Regions from separate parts of the Homo sapiens genome. Here region 2 is linked to region 1. The links come from fine-mapping of genetic effects on gene expression. A gene starts in region 1. The other region holds a variant in brackets. All regions are shown on one strand. Distances are between the middles of the regions. Region 1 holds the start of PMVK (phosphomevalonate kinase). Region 2 overlaps KCNN3 (potassium calcium-activated channel subfamily N member 3).

What was found. PIP is the estimated chance that this variant, and not a neighbour inherited with it, causes the effect.
Region 2: its variant is fine-mapped to the expression of PMVK in whole blood (INTERVAL, PIP 0.97).

The regions. Positions count from the first base shown.
Region 1 is chr1:154,932,722-154,941,753 of GRCh38, forward strand. It overlaps PMVK (phosphomevalonate kinase), which reads right to left and starts at 3,998. Exons shown (of 5, transcript NM_006556.4): 1 at 3,870-3,998. The coding sequence starts at 3,964. RefSeq lists a silencer at 3,448-3,547 and enhancers at 3,504-4,446, 4,268-4,467, 4,447-5,388.
Region 2 is chr1:154,716,875-154,728,265 of GRCh38, forward strand. KCNN3 (potassium calcium-activated channel subfamily N member 3) reads right to left here. Exons shown (of 8, transcript NM_002249.6): 5 at 9,042-9,152. LOC124904429 (a long non-coding RNA gene) reads left to right here and starts at 9,837. Exons shown (of 2, transcript XR_007066638.1): 1 at 9,837-9,964; 2 at 10,218-10,356. The variant A/G (reference allele first, on the strand shown) is at 4,163.

The DNA of each region.
Region 1 (9,032 bases):
AGGTTATTGCCCAGACCCTAAACTAATTCTCTCATAGCCAGAGGTATCTGTCTCCACTGACTTGGTCACCATAACATATATCATTTATTAATTCACTGGTTGGGCATGGTGGCTCACACCTGTAATCCCAATACTTTGGGAGGCCAAGGCAGGAGGAGTGCTTGAGGCCAGGAGTTCAAGACCAGCCTGGGCAACACAATAAGACCCAGAGATACCATCTCCACCAAAAAATTTAAAAATTAGCTGAGCATGGCAGCATGTGCCTGTACTCCCAGCTACTCCAGAGGCTGAGGTGGGAGCATTCCTGAGCCCAGGAGTTCCAGGCTACAGTGAGCCATGATTGTACCACTGTATGCCAGCCTGGGAGACAGAGTGAGACCCTGTCTCATAAAAATGAAATAAGAAAAGCAAATTTAAAAAACTGAAACAAAAGCCAGGTGTGGTGGCTCACGCCTGTAATCCCAGTACTTTGGAAGGCTGAGGCAGCAGATCACCTGAGGTCAGGAGTTTGAGACCAGCCTGACCAACACGGTGAAACCCTGTCTCTACTAAAAGCATAAAATTAGCCGGACATGATGGCGCATGCCTGTAATCCCAGCTACTCGGGAGGCTGAGGCAGGAGAATCACCTGAACCCAGGAGGTGGAAGTTGCAGTGAGCCGAGATCGCCCCATTGCACTCCAGCCTGGGCAACAAGAGTGAAAATCCATCTCAAAAATGAAAATAAAAATAAAAATAACTCATTCGTTATTTAATTTACTTAACCAACCTTTTTTTTTTTTTTTTTTTTTGAGACGGAGTCTTGCTCCACCACCCAGGCTGGAGTGCAATGGCGCGATCTCGGCTCACTGCAATCTCCGCCTCCCAGGTTTGAGCGATTCTCCTGCCTCGGCCTCCCAAGTAGCTGGGATTACAGGCGCCCGCCACTACACCCGGCTAATTTTTGTATTTTTAGTACAGACGGGGTTTTGCCATGTTGGCCAGGCTGGTCTCAAACTCCTGATCTCGTGATCCGCCCGCCTCAGCCTCGCAAAGTGCTGGGATTACAGACGTGAGCCACCGCACACGGCCCTTCTTTTTTTCTCTTTTTTGAGACAGAGTCTCACTCTGTCGTCCAGGCTGGAGTACAGTGGCACCATCTCGTCTCACCACAACCTCTGCCTCCTGGCTTAACCAACCATTTATTGGGTACCATATTTGGATCTAGGTGATACAAATGTGAATGATACATGCTTCCTGTCCTAGCCTTGAGATGCTCACAATACACTTAACGCACAGGAAGATAAGTGCTGTTTTTGAGACTGAGTCTCACTCTGTAGCCCAGGCTGGAATGCAGTGGTGCAATCTCAGGTCACTGCAACCTGCACCTCCTGGGTTTAAGCTATTCTCCTGCCTCAGCCTCCCAAGTAACTGGGACTACAGGCCGGCGCCACCACGTCCCACTAATTTTTGTATTTTTAGTAGAGAAGGGTTTTACCATGTTGGTCAGGCTGGTCTCGAACTCCTGAGCTCAAGTGATCCACCCTTCTCGGCCTCTCAAAGTGCTAGGATTACAGGCGTGAGCCACTGCGCCCAACGATAAGTGTTCTTTGTTTTGTTTTGGTTTGGTTTTTTAAGAGTCAGGGTCTTGCTGTCACCCAGGCTAGAGTGCAGTGGTATGATCACAGCTCACTACAATCTTGAACTCCTGGGCTCAGGCAATCCTCGCACCTCAGCCTCCTGAGTATCTGGGATTACTGGCATGCACCACCATACCCAGCTAATTTTTTTTATCTTTTGTAGAGAGGGGGTCTCACTATGTTGCCCTGGCTGTAAGTGTTCTTATTTTCATGTTTCAGATGAGGAAGCTGAGGTTGTGAAAGGAGGATTGACTCCCCCAAAGCAACACTGCAAGTAGTGAAGCCAAGATTGGTAAAATAAATATAGCCAACATTTAGTTCCTGCACCTCTGCTAGGTGCCAATAATTATTCTAAGCCCTTCACACACATTATCTCATTTAATCCCCACAACCACCCTATTATCATCCCCATTTTACAGATGACAAAACTGAGACGCAGGCCAGGTGCGGTGGTGGTTCACGTCTGTAATCCCAGCACTCTGGGAGGCCGAGGCAGGCAGATCACCTGAGGTCAGGAGTTCCAGACCAGCCTGGCCAACATGGTGAAACCTGTCTCTACTAAAAATACAAAAGTTAGCTGGGCATGGTGGCACACACCTGTAATCCCAGCTACTCGGGAGGCTGAGACAGGAAAATCGCTTGAACCCAGGAGACAGAGGTTGCGGTGAGCCGCAACCTGGGTGCGCTCCAGCCTGGGTGACAGAGCAAGACTCCGTCTCAAAAAAAAAAAAAAAAAAAAAAAAAAAACATGAGGCACAGAGTGAATGACAGATGTGTACAAGATCACACACTAATCAACAGTGAGCCAGGGTTTGCATCCCAGCAGTCTAATTCCAGAGCCTGTGCTTCGGACCACTATTTGACGTCAGGGTTTGGAGGTGAGGAGAAATGCAACTTAGGAAAAGGTGGTGAGATACTTAGTGATGAAAAATTCAGGTGGTGACCTCTGCTCTGGGCTCTCCCACACCTTCATAGAACCCCCGTGGTACCCAAAAGCAGCTTCCTGGTACCCCCACCACACTGGCCTTCAAGAGGAGAGGAGCCCCACTTTCTCCCCAACCTCTGCTCTCCTAGCCCAGGTCTCAGCAAAATGCTCCTGCACAGAAGATCTTGCTTTGACAGAAAACACTGTGCAAAAGGTATTATTATTTGGGGAGGCAGCCAGATAAAACAGAAAGAAACCAGTCCTTGGCGCAAGATAAAGTTGAATTTGTTTGGGTTTTTTTTCTTTTTGTTTCAATTATATATTAATTGCTGAGATGCCCATCATGAACCACAAAGCTGAATTTGAATCCTGGATTTGCCACTTACTTTGTGACCAGCAAGGGTTTTTTGTTGTTAACTTCGTATGTTATTTTATTTTATTTTACTTCGAGACAGGGTCTCAGGCTCTGCTGCAAGGACTGGAGGACAGTAGCATGATTACAATTCACTGTAGCCCCCAGGTTCAAGCGATCCTCCCACCTCAGCCTCCTGAGTAGCTTGGACTAGAGGTGCTCGCCATCGCACTAGGCTAACTTTTCCATTTTTTTGTAGAGACTAGGGTCTTACTGTGTTGCCCAGGCTGGTCTCCACTACTGGGCTCTCAAGCCATCCTCGCACCTCTGTCTCCCAAAGTGCTGGGGTGACAGACATGACCACCACACCCGGCCTGTTTAACTTTTTAAGAGCCTCAGTTTCTTCACCTGTGAAATGGAGATGCTAATAATGGCACACAGTACCTAACAAAGAGGTGAAGAGGGTTTTTTGTTTTGTTTTTTTAAGACAGGGTCTCGCTCTGTCGCCCAGGCTGGAGTGCAGTGGCCAATCTCGCCTCACTGCAACCTCCGCCTCCCGGGCTCAAGCGATTCTTCTACCTCAGGCTCCTGAATAGCTGGGACCACAGGCACGCGTCACCACGCCCAGCTACTTTTTGGATTTTTCGTAGAGGCGGGGTCTCGCCATGTTGCCCAGGCTGGTATCCAACGCCTGGTATATAGAAAGTGCCTTCGTAGGAACCATTATTAATGCTTCTCAGAGAGACCTGCAGCTGAAGGTCTTTGGAGAGGTGGTCACCTGCTTCTTTGAGGCTCGCCTGTGTAGACTACTGTTTTATGTAATGGTGGCATTCCACCTTCCCCAGCCCAGTGCTCCTCCTGCCTTGCAAACGGACGACCCGTACTCCAAAGCTCACTCCGTGACACCCAAAAGCACTCCTCGTGTCACGTGATGCGGAGAGCTCCCCCTTCCACCTTTCCCGCCTCACGGACACCTGCTCTGCAGCGCCTCGGTCACGAAGTCCTTCCCGGATTTCCTCTTGCCGCTGAACAGCAGTACCAGCCGCGGGGCGCCTCCCAGCGGGGCCATGGGGCCGCCACGCCTCGCGATGCCTGAAGCTGACACTTCTCCCTACCCCTAAAATCGGGACACCGCGCGGAATGGACGCGGCCACTAAGCGGAGCGGCAACAAGGAACAATCGCGCCCCTCCTCGCCGTAGCTGCGAACAGGGCTGACCGCCCGCGACCGTGCCCTCAGCTCATGTCCAAACAGATATGGGGAGAAAAGGGTGAGACACGCGGAGAGAAAGGCGGTTCCTTCACAGAGCAGCCTCCCCTCGTGAAGCTCCCCCACCCGAACTCACTTAGAACAGTCCAGCCCCGCCCAGAACCTTCGCTCACAGCCTGGCCTGCTTAACTGACACCCGGGGAGGAACCGGACGCGACTACCTTCCTCCGAGGGGGGTGACGTCTGAAATTTCCTGAGGTGAACCCCATGTTCCCTTCCGCGCAGCCCTAAAACTTTAGGAAAAAAAATCTCTGGAGTGAGATCACGTTGGAGACGTTTTGGAAACTGCCCTTTTGCCTGTGCGTTATAGTACATGTGCCACAGCAAATCTGCGCGCGCCCCAGAGTGGGAATGGGTCTTCCTGGGGGCGTAAGGCAGCCCTGACGCGAGCGGCGTGTCTGGCCACGTCATGTCGGGGGAGGAGCAGAATCGCGCACACGATATTTCATTGTCAAGCAGATTTTATAACCCGAGACGTCACTAAGATGTGGCCCTTTAAGCCCGGCGAGAAACCTTTGATTGCTTTTCTAGCCGCAGCCTCCGGCCCAAAGGTTTTCGGAAGCAAACGGCGTGGGTGACATCAATAGTAAGGGAGCGTTGAATCCCTAGATGAGATTGCCTGGTTTCATCCGAAGTCTGGCTCCCAGCCAGAAGTTTGAGAGGCAGGATAAGAATAATCTGTCCTTTCCCTGCATCCCCGGTTCTGCCTCTTCCCGCAGTAGGTGACGGGTTGCCCCAGCTGAGTACGTCGAGTTGTTTTTGGCTATGACTTGCCGTCCTGCATTTTTCTGAGCATGTCAGAACAGAGCCTGCAACTCATTACTGCCTCCACTAGAGAAAAAGTGTAGTGTGGAGACTTAGGGAGAAACCATTAATTTCCTGAATGTTGAAAAGAGGCACAGGAGAGTGGTCAGATGCAAAAAGAACAGACTTAAGGAGGTGGTTTTTTGTTTTTTGGGGTTTTTTTTGTTTTTTTTCAGCAACCCAGAAAACACTGCACTCATCAACGCCCTAGAAGGCAGCACAGAGTGGATTTTCAGTCCCAGCTTGGACACTTAGCAAGTCACTCTGAGTTTACCACTGATAAGGCCCACTTCCCAGGGTTATAATAAGAAAGGAATGAAGAAAATATATGACAAGGTACAATAAAATACTTTGTAAGTTCTCAAGTATCATCCAGATGTAAGGGGTTGTTATTTATTCTTAGCACTTCGTCATTCAACACAGAATCAGATTTTCCAGCTCATCTTCAATAAACATGTATTTGGGCCTCCACGGAAAGTCCACATCTCCTGTTTTACCTGAGTCACATGGAAGGAGTCAGAACTTACTCCCGGAGTCTCTTTCCTCACCTGACCCAATGCACGCCCCTTACCTCCCTCTCTGACTCTGAGATCCAGCTCCCTGAATACCTAGTGAGCGATCAGAAAACTTCCCCCAGGCTCACGCCTGTAATCTCCGCACTTTGGGAGGCCAAGGCGGATCACCTGAGGGCAGGAGTTCGAGACCAGCCTGGCCAGCATGGTGAAACCCCATCTCTACTAAAAATACAAAAATTAGCTGGATAGCTGGACGTGGTGGCGGGCACCTGCAATCCAGCTACTCAGGAGGCTGAGGCATGAGAACACTTGAACCTGGGAGGCAGAGGTTGCAGTGAGCCAAGATTGTACCACTGCGCTCCAGCCTGGACAACAGAAAAAGACTCCGTCTCAAAAAATAAAAAAAAACTTCCCCCATACTAGGCTTCCTAGTATGCCTCAACTGAACTCCACTGTCCCTTACTGGTGTCTCAAGTGGAGGCTTTAGTCTCCCAGCCCTCATCCCTCAGCATCCGCTTTGAGTCTATGGCCTCCCTTCCTCCCCATTTTAATTTCCACACCATTACTCATCCTGCCTCTTGGAAAACTATGGTTCCTCTAAGGCTCATGCCACCTGCCTGCGCTACCCTCCTGCTTTCCTCAGTACTGGCAGCCCAGCAATCCTGGTGGTTCATTTTCATTTTCTTTTGTTTCTTTATGCAGACGGGGTCTTGCTATGTTGGCCAGGCTAGTCTGGAATTCCTGGGCTCAAGCAGTCCTCTCTGGCCTCAGCCTCCAAAAGTGCCGGGATTACCAGTGTAAGCCACTGCACCCAGCCTCATTCTCATTTTCTGAGACTCAGCCACTGGCTCCCAGTCTCCTTTTCTACAGAGTTGCTGTCATCATCCTCGGTGACATCACGGTCATGGCCAGCCCATCCAACACCCCGCTGCTCAATCCCTTGGCCCTGGCTGTTCAAAGCCTTTTCCCCCCTCTCCTCCTCAGAGGCCAGCTCCTATGGACACACCCTGGGCTTTGTCATCACCAGAAGCTGCTCAACCTGCAAACTCACATGCTCATCCACCCAACCCTCCAAGGTCACTTGCTCAAATACTCCCCAAAGTAGCACTTCCCTCCCAAGTCCACTAGCTGGTGGAACTGGTTACATTATATAACATGCTCTGCCTGCCTTCCACAACCCAGGGGAAAAAAGTTAAATGTGGCCCGGTGCAGTGGCTCATGCCTGTAATCCCAGCACTTTGGAAGGCCGAGGCGGGCAGATCACGAGGTCAGGAGATCGAGACCATCCTGGGTAACACGGTGAAACCCCATTTCTACTAAAAATACAAAAAAAAAAAAACAAAACAGCCAAGCGTGGTGGCAGGCACCTGTAGTCCCAGCTACACTCGGGAGGCTGAGGCAGGAGAATGGCGTGAACCCAGGAGGTGGAGCTTGCAGTGAGCGGAGATCAGAGATCACGCCACTGCACTCCAGCCTGAACAACAGAGCGAGACTCCATCTCAAAAAAAAAAAAAAAAAAGAAAGAAAAGTTAATGATCCACCTAGATGACAGCCATGGCTTGTTTCTTTTCTTTTTTTGAGACAGGGTCTCACTCTGTGCCCAGGCTGGAAGTGCAGTGGCGGATCATAAGCTCACTGCAGCCTTGATGTCCTGGGCTCAAGCAATCCTTCCACCTTCAGCCTGCTGAGTAGCTGGGACTACAGGTGTGTGCCACCATGCTGAGTTAAACTTTTTTTTTTTTTTTTAATTTTTAGTAGAGATAAGGTCTTGCTATGTTTCCCAGGCTGGTCTCGAACTCCTGGCCTCAAGCCAACCTCCCATCTCAGCCTCCCAAAGTGCTGGAATTACAGGCATGAGCCACAGCGCCCAGCCAGCCTGTTCCTTTGCTGGCCTCATGCCACTATTTCTGGACTAGTCCTGTCATTCCAGATGAGCAAGCATTGATGGCCAGCCTGTTTGACCCATGGGCAATGGACCTTCCAAAGGGAGCTATCTAGCACTTTCCTCTCCACAGCATGTGGCTTCAGGTGTCTGCCTATCCTGCTCTAGCCAGATGACCTGTCCCTTTGATTTTGAACAGAGTCTCAGTGATGACCTCAATGGATGACCCTCCCCTCTGCTGAATGCCTCCCCTGGGGCTGAGCGAAGGTAAGTGCCCCATGCTGGTGAGAACTCCTGCAAAGGGGCCCTGCTCTGGAGAGGAAGTGGAGGGTGGGGGGAATGGTGAGGATTAGTGGCACCCCTCCCATTTCCTACAGTAGCCATCCCCTCAGACCTGCAGGCTGCCAGTGGCAGAATTTGCCCCCTCTGTGAACCATCTAGCTATAGGCTATAACACCCTTACCTCAGGCCTCACCTTTGCCTAGCCTGAAATACCTTCCCCCATTCTCCCATCTCTGAAATCCTATTATCTTTCAAGATCCAACTCAAAGGCCACCCCTTTCTTCCTCTTCACCCAGTTGGCAGACTGCTCCTGGCACCATTAAGAGAGTACTATTAAAATTCTGCTTTGTATGCAGCTAATCCAATTAGCCTCGGGGCAAGGATTGGGGGGCCCCACAGCATCTAGCACAGTATTGAGACCTGAATGCTAGTTAGCATCTTTTCCCGCCAGCTCCTGCCACATCGGGGAACCAACACCCTTTCCTCCCATATCAGTAGCTCCCAGTGGCTCCCAGTTTCCCCCTTAGAGGTTAAGTACAATAAAAATAACTGCTCTGTTTCAGTGCCCTTTAGCTTGCAAAGCCTTTTCATGTATCTTACATTGACTCATCTCACCCTCGGGACAGCCTCTGAGAGCAGAGTCTGTGGTCTCCACTTCAATGATGAGAAAGCTGAGCCCTTAAGCAAGGAGAGCCCTCTTGCCCAAGGCCCACAGGTGGGCAGCGGTGGAGACCGCCACTCTGGGGTTTCCGACTTCAAATCTCGCTCAGGTCAAAGCTCTGGTTAGAAAAGATCTGGGCTGGGAGCCCCCCTGGCCCAGGAACAGGTGAGCCAGGAACAGGCCCAGCCAGAAGAACAGGTGAGCGGGGAAGGGGTTCACTGTTGTTCTCCATTTGGGAGCGGCAGTCACCTATCCTGGGTGCCAAAGGTTACCAAAGAGATGGGTGGCCACCTTAAGGGAGACCTGGGAGAGGTGGGACAGGGAACTCAGATAAGTGCTTAACAAGGGGCTTCTGTGGCTCAGGCAGCTGAGTTGGGGAGGGGAAGAACCTGTTGTCTGATTTAGGCAACAGCCCTCCACACCCCTACCCTGCAACCTGCACTGTCCCTACCAGACCCCTGCTGTGAGCATGTGAAGGGGCCAGGAACATCTGTGGCCCAGAACCAGGCAGGATGAGGAGACATTCCTGTGTCAGGGTAACCCTGGGAGGTTCCCATGGCAACAGCCAGCCAGTCCAGTGTGTGTCCTTGGGCCCAGCCGGACGAGGCTGGGAGCCACTCTCAAAAGGAGCAATGTGCCTCTGACCTTCCAGAAGCCAATAGGGGTGGTCAGGCTGGGAAGCGAAGTGACCCACTACCACCTATGACCCACCCACCCCATCTGTC
Region 2 (11,391 bases), 210 kb before region 1:
TGCAGAGCACACATTTAATACTACTGCCCTCCTCTTGCAGGGAGAGGAGGCAATTGGATGTGTCATTTCTTCAGTTTCCCTACGCACTTAGCCTCTTAGGAAAGCCTCAAGGAAACTGGAAAGTCTGCAGGTGAATCCCTGCTCTGTCAATTATTAAGCAGTTTAGGAGCAAATGCTTCATTATCTGTAAGATGGGAAAAATAAAGAGGGCTGCTATGAGGCAGTGATGATGGTGCTGGGGGCAACACTTAACATCTACCAGGTGCAGCCACAGGTCTGAGTACTTCATATGTCTAAGCTCCTTTAATCCTCACCACAACCCCATCAGGGAGGTGCTAACATTATCCACATTTTACAGATGAAGAAACCAAGACACAGACCAAGACTAGACAATTATTAATGGCAAACTGAGTCAGTGTGGGTGTGAATGCTACATAAAATGTAAAGTACCATACAGATATTAGTTAATATTATCTAGCTCAAACCCCTCATTGAACATACGAGGAAACCACTTCAGAGATGGGATGTGAGAGCCAGAATCACACAGCTAGCTAATGGCAAAGTCAAAACAAGAGCCACGTCCAGGAAGAGCAGAAGGTTTTCATGTGGACTGAAGGAAAGACAAACAAAATCATTTCCTGTTTTCCAGGATCAAGGAACTGGAAAGAGCACTGGATTTTTTTTTTTTTTAAATCATCATGGCCCTCACTTAGCAATGTGACAGAACACGGAGTCCAGGTCCTGCACTTAACGTCAGCCCAAATGTAAGATACTGAAGTCACAGCACGGCCCGGGTAGCTGAGAGAGGCAGTCACATCATCTTTATGAGTTTGGAGGGAGGCCTCCGTGCATTCGGGAAAGTGATGTTAACTGCCAGCCCTTGCACTGACTCTGAAATTAATTACCAGCAAACAGCCTGGCACAAAGCTAAGTAGATCAATATCTGCGAGAGAAAAAGAAATAGGCTTTTAACTGCACTGTGCTTTCCCAGGTGGACAGTAAATGCTATTGTGGCCAGGGTCTCCCTCCAGTTCACCTGGCTGATTGATCTAAGCATTGTTGGGGTCGGGAGCACATGAGGTCATGTGCCCTTCCTCAGATTTGCCGAGCCTCCAAAGGGCTCCATGCACCCTTCCTTGAGGGAGGCTTGGGTACCACCTGACCTCTCCTGGTGGGCAGAGGCACCAGGGCCAAAAGATGCTCTCAGGGTGCAGCAGTGCGAGAGGGCAGGGCTTAAGATGAAAGCAGCAAGCCAGAAAGAGTGGCTCAAGGTTGGCCACAATCGGATGGGTTTGGGGATGGTTAGGAGAGGACCCTTTGTGAATGGAAGTCCAGCTGTCCTGCCTCCAAAACCCATAAACAAATTGGCTGATTGTTTTCTGCAAGCCCAAAAACTCTCTACCAAAAAATTGCTTTCACTCTGATTGGGGCCAGACAATGGGCTCTATGATCTACTTTAGGAAAGGCTCTAAGATTAATGGGCCTGGGCAAGAAAGTGGTCCAATGAAGACCTTGCAAATTATGGTGACAGCTAACATATACTGAGTGCTTACTACGTGCCAGGCTTTGTGCTAAGCACATATGTCTGCACTGGTTCATTAACCCTCAGAAAAACTTGATAAATAGACGTGATCATCAGCTCCACCTTGGACCCACTGCTGAACTCTCTGAGACTCTCTTTGTTCATACATTTGAGGAACAATTAATGAGCACCTATGATGGGCCAGACATTGTTGTAGCAAGTGACGGTACCACAGTGAACAAATCAATAACATTGCTGCGCTTACGGAACTTACAATCCTGCGGAGAAGACGGTATGCAGTTTGTATGATAGCATCAGGTAACAAGCGCTTAAAAAACCACAACAACAAAGCAGGGTCCAGGGCTAGAGAGTGATGCAAGTACTACCTGCATCTGTGAAATGGGATTACTGTGTTGATTAAATGAGAATATACTTAAAACATTAGCACAGATCCTGGCCATATGCCTCAATACATGGTACCTTTGTTAATATTCTCTCCTTCCAATAAATGTCAGCTTCCTTCCCTCTAACTTCCCCAGCCAGCAAGAAAACATACAACAGAACACACACCTCTTCCTTGAGCTCTTGGCCGCAGCATCCCATGTCAATGACTTGCTCTGGCCACCTCTCTGCCCAGGTAACCTGCTACTTGCTATTACAGAGGGGCTGTCGGTTGCGGCAAGAATGCTTGGGGCAGGAGTACAAGGGGGATGAAAGGAGCACCTTTCTTGGGCACCCTAAGCCTCCAGCAGCCCCAGGAGCCCTGGGAAATTCCAGGGGTCCCATTAGCAGAGCCCCCCAGAGAAGAAATCACTAGCATGCCCATTATGCTGCCAGGAACCCTTGCCAGGGAAGTATTCTACTTGGAGGTTGGAGACGGGGAAAGGGAGGCCTGGCCGGTGGGTGTGATTTAAATACACACATCTTGGACAATTTCTTCAGTGTGTGAACATCACAGAGTGTACTTAAACAAACCTAGATGGGACAGCCTACTACACACCTAGGCTGTATGGTATAGCCTATCGCTCCTAGGCTACAAGCCTGTATGGCACATTCCTGTACTGTAGGCCACTGTAACACAAATCACTAGGGGAGAGGAATTTTTCAGCTCTGTTATAGCCTTCTGAGACCACCTTGGTATATGTGCACCATCATTGACTGAAACTTGTTATGCAGTGCATGACTGTAACTTCAAGGAGTTACACAGGTTGAAATTAGGCTGAGTGATGATCAGATCACTATCGGAGAACCTGCAAGCCAGCCCTTGACTGAAGGTGTCCATTACACACAGGACTAGAGAAGGGGGCTGGTTCCTCTTTCCCATTTGCCAAGCCCACTCTCCCCTCATCACCACCCTGCAGACTTGCTCTGGCTTCCCCGGCTGCCCTCTCTTTCATCACCCTGCTTGCACCTCCTCTTTTTCCTCCCCCTGTTCTATTCCACACTCCCTTTACAGGCTTCTCTGCCTGCCTCACCCAGAGGCCCTCACTGACCACTTAGAACTGGGAGCTCCACCTCTCTGGCTGGCAGGAAATTGGGTAGAGAGAGAGGAGGTGTATTTCCGTTGTTCAGAGTTGGAGCTTGAGGTTCTCCCTGTAGCAATATGGTAATGGGTGGTGGATAATTCTATAATGCTATTTATGTGATACTCAGTTAGGGTGGAGTTAAGCTGGCTTTTCTTTTCAGCAGGTCTGGGACCCTAACCCCATGCTGAGTTCCAAGGAACTGACCGCCCTAAAGCTGCCTGCCTGATGGTCTGAGAGCAAAGTGGATCTTGCATAGGCCGGGGGCCCACCCTCGCCCCTTTCTGGGCCTTCGTCTTCTCATGTGGGTTGGAGTGGCTCTTCCCTAAGGGTCCTTCCAGCTTAAACGCACATTGTTTCTGTGACTATTGCTAAAGAAAACCTGCACCCAATCTGTCTGGGACAGAACCTTGTGCGTGATGTAATTTATAATCCTCTTCTGGGGAGAATTAGCATTCCTGATAACTGCCCTATTGATTATCTGATCCATTGTAAAGACTTGAAGACTTGTTCTGGAAATCCACTGTTGAGCCCAACCAGCTGTCCATTAGCAGTCTTTAGCTAAACCTTCTATAATCTGGCATAACAATGACTACCATTGTTTTTCCTACGAAATACCACTACTAAGAGTAATCTTTGAATTAGCCTGCTGAAGAAAATTTTCTTCTAGCAAGATTATGATCAAACTTTGGCATATGCTTGTAATTAAAGAAAAGTTTTCTTCAGTGTCATTCAGGAGATAGTAGGTGGGGAAACTACTTAAAGGTTTTTGAGCAGGAAGTAATTTGTTCAGAGCTAAGCCTGAGAGTCTAAGGAGATCCATGGGGAAGCAGAGTGCAGGATGACTGGGGTAAGGGACGCCGAAGTGAGGAGAGCAGGTAGCAGGCTGCTGTGATAGTGCGAGACAGAAGATGGCGGCTTCAAGAGTGGCGGGGCCGAGGCCCTGGAGAGGCGGGCATGCGTGAACAGCCACGGCAAGGTGAAATCAGACACAGAAAGTGCTCAGACCCTCGTGGGGTCCAGGGTCCAGAGGAGTCAGAAATGGGGCTAAGTCTTTAGGCCTGGCGTCTGGAAGAACACGATGTCAGGAGCACACCAGGGAAGTTAGGAGAAGGAA[A/G]TAGTTTAGGGAAGTTGTGGGTTTAATTTTGGTCTTATTCATTGAATTCATGGGGAAGTGTACTTGGGTGAGCTACTTGGGGCAAGAAACCCCTGCAGCAAGAAGGAGATAGGATCCTTAGCACACTGTGCTGTCTGAAGGTTCTGCTCACTGTGGCTTGATGTGGAGAGTAGGTACCGCAAAGAAAATATCTCCGGTCCATGGTGCCTCCCAAGCCAAGTGTGTCCATAGCAGCCCACTCTGCCTTTTTTTTCTTTTTCTTTCCTTTTTTTTTTTTTTTTGAGATGGAGTCTCACTCTGTCACCCAGGCTGGAGTGCAGTGGCACGATCTCAGCTCACTGTAACCTCCGCCTCCTGGGTTCAAGCAATTCTCCTGCCTCAGCCTCCCGAGAAGCTGGGATTACAGGCACCCACCACCATGCCCGGCTAATTTTTTGTATTTTTAGTAGAGACGGGGTTTCACCATGTTCGCCAGGCTAGTCTTGAACTCCTGACCTCAAGTGATCCGCCCACGTCGGCCTCGCAAAGTGCTGGGATTACAGGCGTGAGCCACCGCACCCGGCCCACTCTACCTCTTATAAGAAGAAGTGCTCTCTGAGGGCAGTCAGCCACCAGAGGTTAGGGATGGAGGTGAGGACCACCTCTTACCCATCTTGGTGCCCCCAGAGTACAGAGTGTGGCACCCAGGGAGTGGCCTCTGTGATGGATCTGTTTAGCTACATAAAACAGAAAGATGGGGACATGAAAACACTAAGTGGCAGAAAAGATGGGGCTCTAGTATCTTTCTTCCAGTCCCTCTGTGAATCATGTACTTAAATATTATCTAGTAGCCCAGAGATTAGCAATAAGTTATAATTACAGAATAACAATGGCAGTGACACTGCGAAGTCAGTGTGGGAAGATCTGATTGAATTAAATACAGAAATGACGTTGCCACCAGAGTTGATAAGTCATACGAGGAAAGAAGATAAGCATGGGACTCAAGAAAAGCAGAAATTGAGTTCTTACCCAGTGCTATCAGACCCTCTTCCCTCCCTACAAACAAATAAATAAAAATAGTGCTGGCTCTCATGGCAAAGGCTAGGCTGCAGTCTTTAGAGCAAGACAGGATGAATAAATACTAGAACAATTTGAGTATTTTCTATGATTAATAGCTACAATTCCTTTTTTCGTTTTGCGTAGGTCTTTGAAGCATCAAGGTTGCATATACCGGTAAGAGACTGCTTTTATCTGTCAAATCTACTAATTGCCCACTCCGAAGAGGTTGCAATTATGCCACAGTCAACTCCTTCATGTTGGATCTTTCTCTGAGAATTCACTGAGATGTTATGAATAGACTGAGCTTAGCATTTTTTTTTTTTTTTTTTTTGAGATGGAGTCTCGCTCAGTTGCCCAGGCTGGAGTGCAGTGGCACGATCTCGGCTCACTGCAACTTTCGCCTCCCAGGTTGAAGCGATTCTCCTGCCTCAGTCTCCCGAGTACCTGGGGCTACAGGCACGTGCCACTACGCCCGGCTAATTTTTTTGGATTTTTTTTTAGTAGAGACAGCGTTTCACTGTGTTAGCCAGGAAGGTCTCAATCTCCTGACCTCCTGAGCCATCTGCCTCGGCCTCCCAGAGTGCTGGCATTACAGGCATGAGCCACCGCGCCCGGCCAAGAGCTTCTAAGGATCATGTCTGAGAGTGAGTATTTCTTTTTTTTTTTTTCTTTTTTTTGACAGAGTCTTGCTCTGTTGCCCAGGCTGGAGTGCAGTGGTGGGATCTCGGCTCACTGTAAACTCTGCCTCCCAGATTCAAGCGATTCTCCTGCCTCAGCCTCCTGAGTAGCTGGGATTACAGGTGTGTGCCACCACGCCCCACTAATTTTTGTATTTTTAGTAGAGTCAGGGTTTCACCATGTTGGTCAGGCTAGTCTCGAACTCCTGACCTCATGATCCACCCACCTCGGCCTCCCAAAGTGATGGGATTACAGGCGTGAGCCACCGCACCCGGCTGCTTAGCATCTTCTTGACCAATGAGCCACTCCAGCTTGATACAATGGACCATTTCAAGAGGACAGAAGGCAGGCCAGGCATCCCCAGGGGAAGAGAGGTGGGGTTCTCTTGTGAGCAGGTCAAAGTCAGCTCAAACCAGAGCAGGCCAAGGATGCACACATCCAGTTTCATTTCAATTAAGGTTATGTAAAAGAACCTTCAGAAGTTCTAGTCCTGCCAGCTTTGAAAACCTTCTCTCTGTAAGAACCATCCCTTCTGTGTTGTTTATTTCCTTGAGAAAAGATATTAGATATTAAAGAGACATTTCAACAGATTTAAGTGTTCTCAGAAAAGTGAGATGTTATTCGATTAAAAAGCTACCTTAGATTCATGGGTGAGCAATAAATATTTGTTGATTTGATTTTCAGTCCTACTTTTCAAGAAGTGGAATTGAGGAGGATGTTAGGGAATCATTTTTGAAAGATTAAAATTAGCAACCACAGTCTCATCTTCTACAATTATATTGCAGAAAAATTGTTTATTTTCCTGGCATACAAAGGAGCTGGCTTTCCTCAGCTTTATTTTCCTCTAGCGTCTGATCTACTTGGTGAAAAATGGAGAGGACAAAGGAATAACACCAAATACAAAGAATATTCTTGGCTTAAAAAAGAAAACCAGAATAAACAGAGAGACTGCTAATGTCTCTACTCTTGGTAAACAGCTTATGAGAAGGCTTTGGAGGCAAAACATCTCCCTGCCCTCACTCCGGCACGTAGTTTCAATCCAGTGAAACCTCAGTAAATTGCTTCAGGAAAATAGATGCAAGTGGATTTGCATTTAGGTGTTTCAATAACTTGAATAATTTCCTCAATACTGAGCATGACTTTTGCACCCATTATTAGAGGGGGCTGAAAGAGAGTGGCCAAGTGGCAGGGTTCCCGGCAGGCCTTACTGTGATAACAGCCTTCAATCACTGCCATCGTGATGTGACAAATCATGGCTTTTTTTGGTGCAGCTGATAGCTCAGGGCCATGATGTATCAAGTACAAACACTTGAATGTCAACAACATAAGAATATTTGCCCGTACCAGTTCCTTTTAATGTCTGTTAAGGCTCTTTACAGAATCCAATAAATGTAATCAAAGACCAAACAATCAAACACCATAAATAATTCTGCTGAGAAACTGGAGAGGCCTTGGCCGCTGCACACTCTCCCACTGCCTTCCCCAAGAGCTCGCTCGCAGCTCCCTCTGTCATTCTCTCTCTCTCTCTTTTTGTTCTTCCTTCCTGCCGTTGTCTCTATTTCTAACACATTTTTGCTGCTGTGCAACATTAATCACTGAATATTTTCTCTAGCTTTCAAAAACCCAAATCAAAATTTGGTTGCTCATGGGTCCCTTAACCTACTTCAGTCCTAAATGAAAAAGACTATGGAGGCCGAGACACGGGCACAGGGTTTTAATTCTGTCTCGTCTCAGAAAGAGGACAGTCTTGCAGGAAATCATCTTACTGACCTTCCTTCAGGCTGTAGTTCTAAAGAATTTTCCATAAAAGCTGTCCTTGAATAAACAGCTCCTGCCTTGCCCATTTGGCCTGCTGTTATTCTGGAAGGCTTGTATCTGTCTATTCTAAATGGGTCTTTTCATCTCAGACAATTCAGTGGGGTGTCCAACTTTCAGCAGCTAAATGGTCTACCCATTCCTGCATATTTTCAGATTTTCATCTTCCATAACCACTTCCATAATGGTTCAAGTGAGAAACATTACCCGGAAAACCCAAAAGGGAAAAATTGGATGATGATGTTTTGATGAACAATTTTATTTAGGGATGTGGGCTCTACTAGAATGATTCTTTTTTTTTTTTTTTGAGATGGAGTCTTGCTCTGTCGCCCAGGCTGGAGTGCAGTGGCGCGATCTCGGTTCACTGCAACCTCCGCTTCCTGGGTTCAAGTGATTCTCCTGCCTCAGCCTCCTGAGTAGCTGGGATTACAGGTGACTGCCACCACACCCAGCTAATTTTTGTATTTTTAGTAGAGACGGGGTTTCACATGTTGGCCAGGATGGTCTCGATCTCTTGACCTCATGCTCCGCCCGCCTCGGCCTCCCAAAGTGCTGGGATTACAGGCGTGAGCCGCCGCTCCCAGCATAGAATGATTCTTTAAATGATTTTTTTTAAAGGATTAGACTTAGGTACATTTTCAATATACTTTTATAGTTTTAGGTATATTTTCAATATAGTTTTGCCCTTCCTAATGAGAATCCTGAAAATATTTGAGCATAAACAAAAAACATTGCCTCATACCGTGATTTATTTGGTATCATCAGGCAAAGGGGCAGGTTATACCATTGTAGGCTATTAATTAAATTACCAGGAAAATTATTTGGCTGCCTGAACCATGCACAGTGATCGAACAGAAGACAGGAACCCGGCGTATGAAGGTGCTGTTTCCATTTTGTGTCTGGGGTTCCCTCAAACACACCCTTTAAAAGCCTGGTGCAAACCCATACGACATGACCATTTGCTTCCTTCCTTCCTTCTTTTTTTTTTTTTTTTGAGATGGAATCTCTCTCTGTCACCCAGGCTGGAGTGCAGTAGTGCGATCTCGGCTCACTGCAACCTCCGCCTCCCAGGTTCAAGCAATTCTCTTGCCTCAGCCTCCTGAGTAGCTGGGACTACAGGTGTGTGCCACCATGCCCAGCTAATTTTCTGTATTTTTAGTAGAGATGGGGTTTCAACGTATTAGCCAGGATGGTCTTGATCTCCTGACCTTGTGATCGACCCTCCTCAGCCTCCTAAAGTGTTGGGATTACAGGCGTGAGCCACTGCACCCGTTGGACCATTTGCTTTCTGATTGGCTTCCACTGTGGCCTTAAGTCCCCCATAAGACATGGCTGTGTGGCATCTTACCCGCTTGGTGAGCTGAGTGTCCATCATGAAGTTATGAACGTGCTTCTCCGCTTTGGTGAGTTCCAGCTTTCGGGCCACCACGGCCACCACAAGGGCAGTGCAGCCTGCACCCTGCGGGGGGACATCAAGAGGACCAGAGGGGAAAGAACATATCATTAAGAGGCAAGATGAGAGACTCAACACGCCTGGCGGCCACGGGGGTAATTTCCTGGGAGTGGAGTGGGAACTTGAGCTCTCTGGCTGGTCACGACCAAGCCACAAAAATCTGTTGAAATCTGTCAGGACTCTGATGTCCTGACCCACAGAGGGGTCTGCAGTGCCTCTTGGGTTGTGCTCTGCAGCTGACCTCTGGGAGGCTGAGCTAGCCAGTTTCAATGGAGAAGGATGCTGGGTGGCGCCGAGGCTTTGGGGGGTTTAACCAACAACTAAGCACCTGGTCAGCTGCCAAGCTGTGCAGCGGAAGACAGAGGGGCCAGCACACACGGGCCCTCTCTCCCTCAGGCAGGTCTCCATCCCACTGCCAGCTCTAGACCAGCAGGCCTGGGAGGAAAGAAGGTAGGCCATCAGCTGGGGTGCAGATGGAACACCTGCCAGTGGCTGAGAGTGTTCCTGAAAATAATCGAATGAAGAGGCAATACCTTTCCCCAGGGCTTGTTTCACAGAGGGCACCCAGGTTGGCACGAACACGTGCACTCAGTGACTGTGCCTGCTCTACACTTGGGCTTTTTCACCTCAAGGTTTACGCTATGACTCAGCACAAGGAATCGGTTCCTTCCTGCCTTCACCAGGAGGCTCATGAATTCACCGTCATGCAGAGATTTTAAAGACAACACCACTTCTGCTGGATCAAAACCGGGATTTTAAGTGAGCCCGCAGCAGACCCTTGGGATTTTCTGGAACAGCGATCCTAGTCTGCTCGGTAGGTCCGTGCCAGGGGAGCCCGGGGGAGGGTGGGCAAGGAAGCAGGCTCTGCTGAGCCCCCAGAATGGTGGGACTCACTTTCTCTCTCCTAATCCTCTGGGTGCATACTTGACTGTCTGGGAAATAAGCAGGGAATTCCCTGCACATTCCAACATTCTCCCAATGCATTTTAAAATCCTCTTCGCTAGGCTTCTTGGTTGGCTTGTGAGCATAGGGGGAATTCAGAGACTCACTACTCCCCTGGCTCTTCGGCAGGCAGCGGGAGTCAGCTCCATCCTTCTGCAAGCGGACTCCCGTCAGAGACCATCGCCCTCTGCCTGCATGCTGTGCCCTGCGCCGCCCTGACCACCACTCATGGAAAGAGATGATGAACTTATTAAAGCCAACAACCGAATCCTGTATGTCAAACAGTAATTCTAGTTGCCACAGAACCCAGTCTAGCAGTTGAGGTCCCAGAATGGAAGGAATCTGTCAGTAACATTTTTGGCTCATCAGGTCTTACAAAATGTGTGAGAAGCAGAAAAGAATGTTTTTCAAAGGTACTATAATCTATAACCGACTTGGAAGGAATGCATATGGGTGGATCCATTCCCTACTCTCTCTTTTAGAAGCTATTTCTCTCTTTATCCCACAGGCTGACAAAGGCTAGCCTGTGTGAAGTTTCAATGTGGTTGAAGTTCACAATGCTTTCTCCTCGTTTCCCACAAGGGTCCCCATTAAAACAATCTAGTGTTTCTCAGTACATTTGTTGGCCTTGTCACAAAGTGAAAAGAACCAAGTCTGTGTGAACTTTCCTTTTCTGACCTCATTTTCCTCTTTTGTTCGAGGACGGCTGTGTTTTTTCAGCTTCTGTGACTTACAGGAGACTCTGTGCCCAATTTTCAAAGGATCTGGGCAGTTGCACAGCCTGGTCTGTAGCTGTAATCAATTTAGCCATGCCTCCAAAAGCAAAAAATAGCTTAAAAGAAGCCATCCTAGAGGGAAGATGTGTGCTCCCTTCCCCTCGACCGGACGGAGTATCATCCCTCTCCTTTATATGGAGTTCCAAAAGTACTTTGGGCTGAAAGCCCAAAAAGAGGGCTATATCATAGCGTTAAAAATGGAACATCAGATGGAGAGGGTTCTCCCCAGGTTCCATTCTCCCTCCTCTCGCTAGGCCCAGGCAAAACTCTACTTAAATCATCCCTGAAAGCTGGGGTCCAATAGGCCTGAAGAGGGAGCTTCCCTGTTCCATGCTATTTTGGGAATGTAATCACAACAATCAATCATCCACCATTCCAAATTTCCAGGGTCTAGATGGGGTGTTTCACAGCGCTTGCCATGGCCCACATTTTAGCTGGCTGATTGCAGGGGGGGCTTTTAATGAGAAGCTAGAGTGTTTTATCTAATGAACCACCTGTCTCACATGATGAAGATAAATTTCTCTCTG